Linked DNA regions of Homo sapiens: region 1 is reported to be linked to region 2. Evidence: microRNA targets listed by miRTarBase, many of them from high-throughput screens and not tested one by one. Region 2 holds a microRNA gene; the other region holds the end of a gene's coding sequence.
The links. The annotated mature microRNA hsa-miR-607 reads GUUCAAAUCCAGAUCUAUAAC and lies in region 2 at 2,071-2,091, shown strand. An mRNA with a match to its seed (bases 2 to 7 or 8) in the 3' UTR can be bound and repressed. Matches are read on the target gene's strand: a 7mer-m8 pairs with bases 2 to 8, a 7mer-A1 pairs with bases 2 to 7 and ends in A, and an 8mer does both.

Region 1 (5,077 bases), not on the chromosome of region 2:
GAAAAACTGCTTAAGGTTGAAAAGAGAAATTTAAGAAATTGCTGACGGAATAAAAACATAATAGAACTACAACACCGAAGGAAATGAAAGAAGCAAGAAGGAAAGCACCAGAAGTGATTTGGAAGAGAAATCCTAAAATGAATGTGAACAACAGAGTGATCAGAAGAGTGTAGGGAATTAATAGTTTCTTTAAACAAGCCATCTCACAATGGAAGCCTGTGTGTCTTGAAATTGCTGTGGTTATTATTCACTCTGCCCTTTGAAGAACTGCAGAAATTCATAGGGCAATGTTAAGTGTTTGTGTCTCCAAAAAAGATGTTGGAGTCGTTACCCTCAGAACCTCAGGTAATCATGTTAGTTAATCCATTAGGTTAGTTCCTAATTGACTATGACTGTGTCCTTAGAAAAATGGGAAATTTGGTCACAGAGGCAGATGTACAGAGGGAAGACGATGTGAAGACACAGGAAGAACATCTTCAAGCCAAGGAACACACGGGGCTACCAGAAGCCGAGATAGAAGCATGGAACATATGTTCTAGTAAGAAGTGTCTGGGTTGTTTTGGTTTTTTTTCTTTGGAGTTTTTGTGGTATTAAATTATTTTTAAATTATGTTTTATTGTAGACCTCACAATTCTTTTTTTTTCTTTTTCACTCAAACTACAGCAAAATATTATATTTCTATCCTATATTTCATGGGCTTACCTCTAGCCAATTGTTTTTAACTGCCATGTAATATTTTACATCATGAAGCTTTCATCCTTGATTCAAATCCTCTGATTATGGACATGTATTTCCTCCATTTTCCTGCTATGAAATATATCACCACCAGCTTGATTCAACCTTAAAAATAAGGTCATCAGTATTATGTTCTAAATAAACTTATGGCCATACATGAGAAATGTACCTTGCAGCTGAATGGCTAGGTCATATGGTGATCTAGTATGTAACTGGAATTATGTTATACATTGCCCTTCCTCTCCCATAAGATGGACAAAAGTGTTTCTGTATCACTGTGTCCCAGACAATATTTAGAATTACCCAGCTTTCCAGTTTTTACTTTAGAAGTTTAAAGTGATATAGAATATATCTGGTATTTCTCATATTGAAATACATTTGAACATTAGTTCATATCCTTTCATTGCCTTTTGTTTTTCCTCTTCTGTCAATGGTCTACTCATATGTTGGCCTGTCTTTATTTGTATCTTGACTTTTTATTGTGTATTTTGTTTATGGTGGGGTACTTTATTGGTGATTAATACGATTTTCAAGTATATTATATGGGCTAGTCCCTTGATACTATTGACACTGTATTTATCTTCAGTCTCTTGTTGGTATCTAACTTTGGTTCTGAAGTTTATGGAATGGAAGTATTTAATTGGAAAGATTAAACATATTGATTTTAATTAATATTTTTGACTTGTTAGGATTTTTGAATACTCAGGCATAACTCACAAAATTATGCTGCTGGCTTTAAAATTAGTTTTACATTGATTCTTAGAGCATCTTAATCATTAGTAAGGATTAAATCCAAAGTACACACAGTGAAGATAATTTTAAAACTATTTAAAATGGTAAATTTACCTATTAAAGATGAAGCATGAGAACGGGGCAGGAAATGTCATATAGTTCCACTTTTATATGGATTTGCTCAGAGAAACCCCTGAGAATGAGACTGATGAGAATAATGGCATAAAGGTTTTGGCAGACAAGCTATATAGGAAGTGGGAATAACAAGGGCAAATTTTCTTGTCTGGTTAGCTCTTTTAAAAAATAAAATGATCTTGTAAAGATAATTGGAATTTGGCAAAATAACAAAAATTAAGTATGCGTAAGGGATGGCGAAGCAAAATTAAGAACTCTTTCAATGTGTTAAGGTCAGAATAACAGCAGAGAAATACTGTAGGCTGACAGAAATTCTAATATTGCAAATAATTTACAAAATAAATACCTTATGTAATATCAGTTGAATAACAATCTTTCCAAAGTTCCTATAATTACACAATTTTTTTTTTTCGAGATGGGAGTCCTGCTCTGTCGCCCAGGCTGGAGTGTAGTGGCGCAATCTTGGCTCACTGCAGCCTCCGCCTCCTGGGTTCAAGCAGTCCTCCCACCTAGGCCTCCCAAGTAGCTAGCTAGGACTACAGGCGCCCACCACCATGCCCAGCTAATTTTTGTATTTTTAGTAGAATGGGGTTTTGCCATGTTGGCCAGGCTGGTCTCAAACTCCTGACCTCAGGTGATCCGGCCCACCTTGGCTTCCCAAAGTGCTGGGATTATGGGCGTGAGCCACCGTGCCCAGCCAAGGAATAAAATTTTTTTAATAGCACCAAAATAACAGTAAATGAACAAACAGACAAATTAGACTTCATCAAAATTAAGAACATTTCATTTGGAAGACTGAATGAAATAAGGTGAATGAAAACACACAAAATAGAATATATACACACGTATTTCTTATCTGTTCTTTTTGTTTTTGTTTTTGTTTTTTGAGAAGTGTCACTCTGTCGCCCAGGCTGGAGTGCAATGGCGCGACCTTGGCTCATTGCAACCTCCGCCCCCCAGGTTCAAGCAATTCTCCTGCCTCAGCCTCCTGTGTAGCTGGGATTACAAATGCACGCCACCACGCCTGGCTAATTTTTGTATTTTAAGTAGAGACTGGATTTCACCATGTTGGTCAGGCTGGTCTCAAACTCCTGACCTCAGGTGATCCACCTGCCTTGGCCTCCCAAAGTGCTGGGATTACAGGCATGAGCCACCGCACCCAGCCTATACACACATATTTCTAAGACAAGACACTTACTGAGATAACATGACTATCAAAACCCATTAACTGGGCAATAAACCATACAGACAGTTCTTAAAAAGATAGAAGGTTTTGTGTATGAAAACTGCACCTCAATGTTTTAAGATAAATGGTTCCACACAAAAATATGCATCTACCTCTCCTTTTGGAAAACCAGACTATAGGATAACACAAGATTTACTTATTATTAAGGATTCATCTCCTCACAAGTTAGGAAGGACAGCCTTCTCAGCAGTGGCAATAAACGGGAAGTAATAAAGATAATTCCTAACTGGCACAACAGATCTGGGTGAATCACAAAAACCACATATCTGGAAGGCAAGGTGTATGTTCTCTCAAATCCTGCTTTCCTGCCCGTGCAGCAATCATCTCAAAAACAGTACATAAGTTATGAGTCCACAAAATCTTTAGATGCCTTATGCTGACGATGTGTGTTGCTAAAGGAGAATCAAAGGTCTGAGGTCCTGAGAATTTCTATATACCCCCAAACCATGAAGCCATAGTAACACAGACATATCTGGATGCACCTTTGGATGGGACACATTCACTCTTCTTGGCCACAATCTTTTCTACTCTGTTTATCACACCTACCTGTCTGGGCCAATTACTGTTCTTACCTGGCCCCAGTAGGTCTTACAACCAGTGACCTACCTACCAATTCAGTCCTTCAGTGCCCATGGCTACAATGAAGGACCTGGGAAATAAGATACCATGAACAGTGCTGGGAAATATGAAGCATCACTGCAAATAAACAATTCATGCAGGTCCCAGCACTTGAGTTTGTCACAAATGCCTCTTCTCAGGGAGACCTCTGGACCTACAAATAAATCTGGCATCGACACCATGATTAGGACCACACAGCTCTGCTCTCCTTCCTAGGAGACCTTGGAAACCAATAAAAATTAAGACAAACAGGACTAAGAACTATTTTCCGATCTCATACTATGTCCCTGGGGGGACATAAAGTTGGAGCTGTTCACCCTTCACACTGGCAGAGCACATACATCAGCACATGGTAAGACAGCCCATTTCCCTCTTGGGTAATGTGGGAGAGGGAATATCCCACTATGGCAATCACATAAAAAAAAAAAAAACCTATGAAGAAGGTAAACCTCCATGGGCTACAAGAATCCAGATTGCTCTTCTTGGTCAAAGTTGGGTTTTGTCTTTGCCTCGAACAGTTCAGCAAGATGGAAGAGGACCCTCAACAGGCTTTTATTATATTATTCCCTTCAGAATTTGGTAAGCACAGTGGTCTGCATTCCTTGAGCACATGTGAGTGACTGATGAAAACGGTGAGGATATGCCACATGGTAGTGTCTGTTGTAACACTGGGCAGATTAGAAAGTACAAGTAATCTCTAGAAAGCTTCCCAAGTACTTGGACCTTGTAGTGAATCTTTCAACTAGTGATATGCAGATGTATGAGGGTGAATTTCTGTCTGTTGGATCCCTTGAAAAATCAGCTCTCTGGTGTCCTACAGTGAATAAGACAATTACACATCCCAACAATTGCTAGGGCTCTTCTGTTATATGTACCTTCTGGTGCCTGACAAGGGAATATCTTTTGTTGAAGGCTTTCCCACATTTACCACATTCATACGGCTTTTCTCCGGTGTGGATTCGCTGATGCTCAACAAGTTTGTTTTTATAGATAAAGGCCTTCTCACATGCAGTGCAGTTATAAGGCCTCTCTCCACTGTGAACTTTCTGGTGTTGAATGAGGCTGGTGCGGTGTCTAAAGCATTTCCCACATTCACTGCACTCACAGGGCTTTTCGCCAGTGTGAACTTTCTGGTGCTCAAGAAGTCTTTTTTGGTGGCTGAAGACTTTTCCACATTCATTGCACTCACAAAGTTGTTCTCTAGTATGGATTCTTTGGTGCTGAAGAAGTTTAACCTCAAGGTAGAAGCCTTTTCCACATTCACTGCATTCATAAGGCCTTTCTCTAGTGTGGATTTTGTGATGCTTAAGAAGTGTTTGTTTGGAGATGAAGGCTTTCCCACAGTCACTGCATTCATAAGCCCTTTCTCCAGTGTGAATTCTCTGGTGTCGCATGTAGTCAGACGAGCGGATAAATGATTTCCCACATATGATGCACACATAAGGCTTTTCTCCAGTATGAATTCTCTGGTGCTCAAGAAGTCTTTTTTTGTGAATGAAGGCCTTCCCACATTCTTTGCACTCATAAGGCCTTTCTCCCGTGTGGATTCTATGGTGATCAAGAAGTGACTGTTTGTATATGAAGGATTTCCCACATTCACTGCACTGATAA
Region 2 (5,064 bases):
ATGGCAGGACATCTTGTATCACCTGAAACTTCCTTTTTTCGCCGCTAGGTGGTGGGTGTGAGTCTTTTGCGGCCTTTAAGTTTCTACGGTGTTTGGAGGAAATACGTTTCAGTTTCAAATAAATGAACAACGTGTAACTCTAAGATGAGTAAATAATCAATGTGTTTTCCAACCACCCCAAGTTAATTTGTTTAAAAAACAATCAAACCAAGGGTAATAATTCCTCGACATAATCTCTTAGTCCCAGACATATGGATTCAGAGAATCCTAGAGGCTTCAGAGATCAATTTTGTAACTTAAGATATGAAATTGGAAGCCCAGACAAGTAAGGTGATTTGACCAAGATTACATAGTTGCTGGGTAGAGAAAGGGCAACAAAAGCCAGGAGACAAGTTTCCCAATTTCCAATTTAATGCTAGTTTTACTACTCTACTCTGAGTTCCAATTTCTGCTTCACTTATTTTGAGTTGGGAACTAACTCATGGTTGACCTATCACAAAGACCTATTTGGAAGAAAGGATAGGGAGGCAATAGTAACAGCTAATATTCATTGAGCACCTATTATATGTTTATCATTGTTTCATTCCATCCAGATAATAATGCTATGAGTATATATTTACCACATTTTCCAAGTTAGGGACACAAGACTCAGATGAGTTAAATACATTTGTCAAGATCACATAGCTACCAAATTCTAACTAAGATCTCTGTGACTCTAAACCCCTCTAAATTGTCTTACAAGTAGAAAGTTGGCTTGGCGCGGTGGCTCACGCCTGTAATCTCTGCACTTTGGGAGGCTGAAGTGGGCAGATCACTTGAGGTCAGGAGTTCAAGACCAGCCTGGCCAACATGGTGAAACCCCGTCTCCACTAAAAATACAAAAATTAGCTAGGCATGGTGGTGGGCACCTGTAATCCCAGCTACTCAAGAGGCTGAGGCAGGAGAATCCGTTGAACCCAGGAAGTGGAGGTGGCAGTGAGCCGAGATCGTGCCACTGCACTCCAGCCTGGGCGACAGAGCTGAGACTCCATCTTGATAAATAAATAAATAATAAGTAAATAAATAAATAGTCTTACAAGTAGAAAATAGACTCTGCAACTGGAGGATTCACTTAACTCTACATGACATGTTCCGAGCACAGTTAAGCAGTTGGACATTCTGTGTTCCTATCACATGGCAGGCGGTGTCCCAGGCACCGAGGACATAGATAGATAAGACAGAATTTCTGACCTCTGTTGCTTTGGGCTACTGTTAAAGAGGGCCTTAGCTGTAAACTCTTACATTCTAGGGAGGGGCAGGTAATATAACATGGCAGTTAATAGGGTCTGAAGACAGCTGGGTTGGAATTCTGGCTCCATTTTTCAGTGGCTGTGTGACCTTGACATATTAACTTTTCTGGTCATTAATTTCCTCATGTGAAAAAGAGGATAATAATAGTCTGCAAGATGGGGTTTGTGTGAAAATGAAATGAAACTATTCACGTACAGTGCTAGCACATTCTTAGCATGAAATGAGCATCTGTTCTCTGATTAGGCCTTCCTAAGCTCCTATCTGTTTGCCCAGTCTGCAGGATGATGGGAAACCAAGATGCTTCTGCAGTTTGGAGTTAATCTGTGAGAGTATGAAGGAATGATAGCAATGACCTCAGCCTTTGAAAACAACCTCTGAGCCATGTTCTATAGTTCTCACAATGGCAGAAAAGGAATGTCAGGGAAGGGGAGTAGGACTTGGCTTGTCAGCATTAGATCAACTACTACCTGGTGTCTGATTAAAGATGGCTTGCAACATAGAAATGATCATTGACAAATGGGAGGATGAAATGATTGGGGCCTTCTAAAAAAAGCATGTCCTAATGGGAGGCTTTTTTAAAAAAACATAGTCAACTTCAAATAAATTCCAACAAGCAAGAGATGCTTTTTGAAGCACGTTTCAAAGATTATGTTATTTATTCTTCGCAACAACCCAATCGTGTATCCCATTTTATAACAGAGCACAGAGAGGTTAAGTAACTTGCCTAAAGTCACACAGGTTATAGATCTGGATTGGAACCCAGGGAGCCAGACTGCCTGGGTTCAAATCCAGATCTATAACTTGTGTGACTTTGGGCGAGTTACTTAAAGCCGGCTCTTTAACCATCACACTATTTTTTGCTTCCAGTGCTATTTCGGGGAAATGAGACCTAAGTCAGAGACAAGACCTAGCCAGACAGAAAGGAAGCCATGTCACTTGGTCACACGGCTTTTGGTCTTTTTGAGAAACTACTCATGTAGTGGCTTTTTTTGCTTAATAAAAGACTTTCAGGCCGGGCATGGTGGCTCACGCCTGTAATTTCAGCACTTTGGGAGACCAAGCCGGGAGGATCACTTGAGGTCAGGAGTTCGAGACCAGCCTGGACAGCATGGTGAAACACTGTCTCTACCAAAAATACAAAAAAAATTAGCTGGGTATGGGGTGCACCTGTAATCCCAGCTTCTTTGGAGGCTGAAGCAGGAAAATCACTTGAAGCCGGGAAGCAGAGGTTGCAGTGAGCTGATATCATGCCACTGCACTCCAGCCTGGGCAACAAAGCAAGACCCTGTTTCAATAAATAAATAACTTTCAGAGTTTCTCTCTTTTCAGCCTGTATACCTCTATGCCACTGGCCTAGAAAACATGTATGATTTTACTTTATGTTGTACGTGTGACATTTATTTTTCTTCTGTAGTTTTATTGAGATATATTTCACATACCATAAAATTCGCCCATTTGAAGTGTCCACTTCATCTGAAAGCAGGCAGTGGGAGGAGTGGCATCTCTTGGCTTTTTCCTGGGCTCTTGGCTCTGGGTCTTTGGCGCATGTTTTAGCATGGTAGAAATGTTTGACTGTCCCAGCCGGGTGCTGCCTTTCTGCATAAATGAGATCTTTTCTGCCTGGCAACATGGTTTTACCCTCACATCCAAAAGCTCCTAGTTCCTACACAGCTACTGGCTTGTCTGTTTTGAGGCAGTTCCCTTCTTGGAGGTTTCCTTGATATAGCTATGGGTTTGGGTGTCCACTATCCCCATGCCACTAAGCTTGTTCTAGAGTTCAAGACCCATCAACCCCTGCCCCCCAACCACCACCAACTGCGAAAGATTCCTCTTGGGCTCTTTCCCCATTATCTTTTCATCCTACCAGTCAGAAAGGAGGATCATTATTGGAGATCTACTGTTTACTAATATATTGGATGGAGGTGGTGCCCACCCTCTTGGCAGAGGAAAAGATTACAGCTACTAATGCGTCTGACCCCAGCCTGAACCAGTGTTTTAGTATCAAAGGCAAGTGAGACATAGTGTTGCTGTTCATGACCTTGTCCCCAACACAGCCACCTCTGTTTCACCTGCCTTACGTCCAGAAATGCTTTATCCCTACTGTGGAGCAGCTGACTCTGGGGATCCCATGCCAGAATCATGGGGAGATAGACCATGGCCAGGATATATTTCCAGCAGAGAAGCTCTGTCATCTGCAGGATTGCAAGGTGAACCTTCACAGAGCTGCCTGCGGTGAGTGTATTGTTGCACCCAAGACTTCCAGCTTCCCTTACTGTCAGGGGACCTGCCTGACCCTCAACAGTGAGCTTCATCAATCCAACTTTGCACTCAAAGTTTGCACTATAAGAGGGGAGTGCCTATTGATCTGTTCCTGGCTCTTTCAGACCTGTAGTCCCACCAAGGTCATTCTCTTCTCCCTAACGGTCCAGGATGACGAACGTAAGATGAGCGTTCACTGTGTGAACGCATCCTTGATAGAGAAGTGTGGCTGCTCTTGAGACACCCGGGAGCCTCCTCCTGGCTCCATACCCTCCTAAGTCTCGGGACTCAAGTGGGGGGTGGGATTGGTTCCCATAGCAACTAGAGCTCTTTGAAGGGAGGTAGGATTTGGCTTCTGTTTCTCAAAGCACAGCAAGAAGGATGGAGTTATGGCAGTAACCCCTCTTAGATGCTCCTTTTTGACATGGACAGAGGCTCCCCCAGTGCTGTTCTCAGTAACTCCTATTACTGGGAAGCTGAGCCCATTGAGATGTCTGACTATTGCTCTGTCCTAGATTGTGTGAGTGGGCCAGGCTTAGTGCCACCTCTGGAGTTACTTAGATGGAGAAAGAGGAACTGGAATTGGATGCATGTTAGCCCTCAGTGTAGAGGTAAAATTGTTACTGGTGTTAAACAAGGCTGGCTTTGGACTTTTCCAAGCTCGTTAGCTGCCACTGTCCTTCTCTGTACCATAGGACTGGGGCTGGTCCAGAGCTGGCCTAGGCATGTAAATTCCTCCCTACCTAGCATTCCTGGCCTCTTTGGAGTGAGTGAGGGCTCTGTCCAAGGCAGCATTCTGTCATGGGCTAGTTATGGGCAAAGGGCACCAACGCCTTCCCTACCTAGTGTCAGATGGGAGCCTCTGAGTGAAGAACATTGCTCGACAGATTGTTGATGGAGGGGGCTTCTGGCATCAGAAGTCTTTCTTTCTTTTCTTTTCTTTCTTTCTTCTTTCCTTCTTTCCTTCTTTTCTTTCTTTCTTTCTTTTTTTTTTTTTTTTTGAGACAGAGTCTCACTCTATCACACAGGCTGGAGTGCAGTGGCACAATCTCAGCTTTCTGCAACCTCCACCTCCCGGGTTCAAGCAGTTCTCTTGCCTCACCCTCCCAAGTAGCTGGGATTACAGGCACCCACCACCACGCCCAGCCCGGAAGGTTTTCTTACTATCATTTAAGGAACTTGATGATATTAGCTTTTCTACTATCTTTAGAACTTAGTACCATTACAAAATAATAAAAGAATAAAATGTACACTTCAGGGGGTTTTCGTATATTCACAAAGTTGTGCAACCATCACCACAATCACTTTTAGAACATTTCATCACCCCAGAAAGAAACCCTGAAATATCAGCAGTTATTCATCATTCCCCATCTCCTCACCCGCTGGCAACAACAAATCTAGTTTTTTCTTTTTTTTTTTTTTTTTTTTTTTGAGACAGAGTCTCGCTCTGTCGCCCAGGCTGGAGTGCAGCGATGCAATCTCGGCTCACTGCAAGCTCCGCCTCCCGGGTTCACG

Region 1: miRTarBase lists ZNF549 as a target of hsa-miR-607. The part of its 3' UTR that is shown has no 7-base or 8-base seed match.

What each region holds. Positions count from the first base shown.
Region 1 is chr19:57,538,168-57,543,244 of GRCh38, reverse strand. It overlaps ZNF549 (zinc finger protein 549), which reads right to left. Exons shown (of 4, transcript NM_001199295.2): 4 at 2,369-5,077. The coding sequence ends at 4,318. It overlaps ZNF550 (zinc finger protein 550), which reads left to right. Exons shown (of 4, transcript NM_001397372.1): 4 at 1-1,407. Among named protein-coding and RNA genes, the nearest start is that of ZNF549, 13 kb to the right of the region's middle.
Region 2 is chr10:96,825,711-96,830,774 of GRCh38, reverse strand. MIR607 (microRNA 607) reads left to right here and starts at 2,011; the gene lies at 2,011-2,106. LOC102723665 (a long non-coding RNA gene) reads left to right here. Exons shown (of 1, transcript NR_135921.1): 1 at 1-143. RefSeq lists a cis regulatory region at 1-129.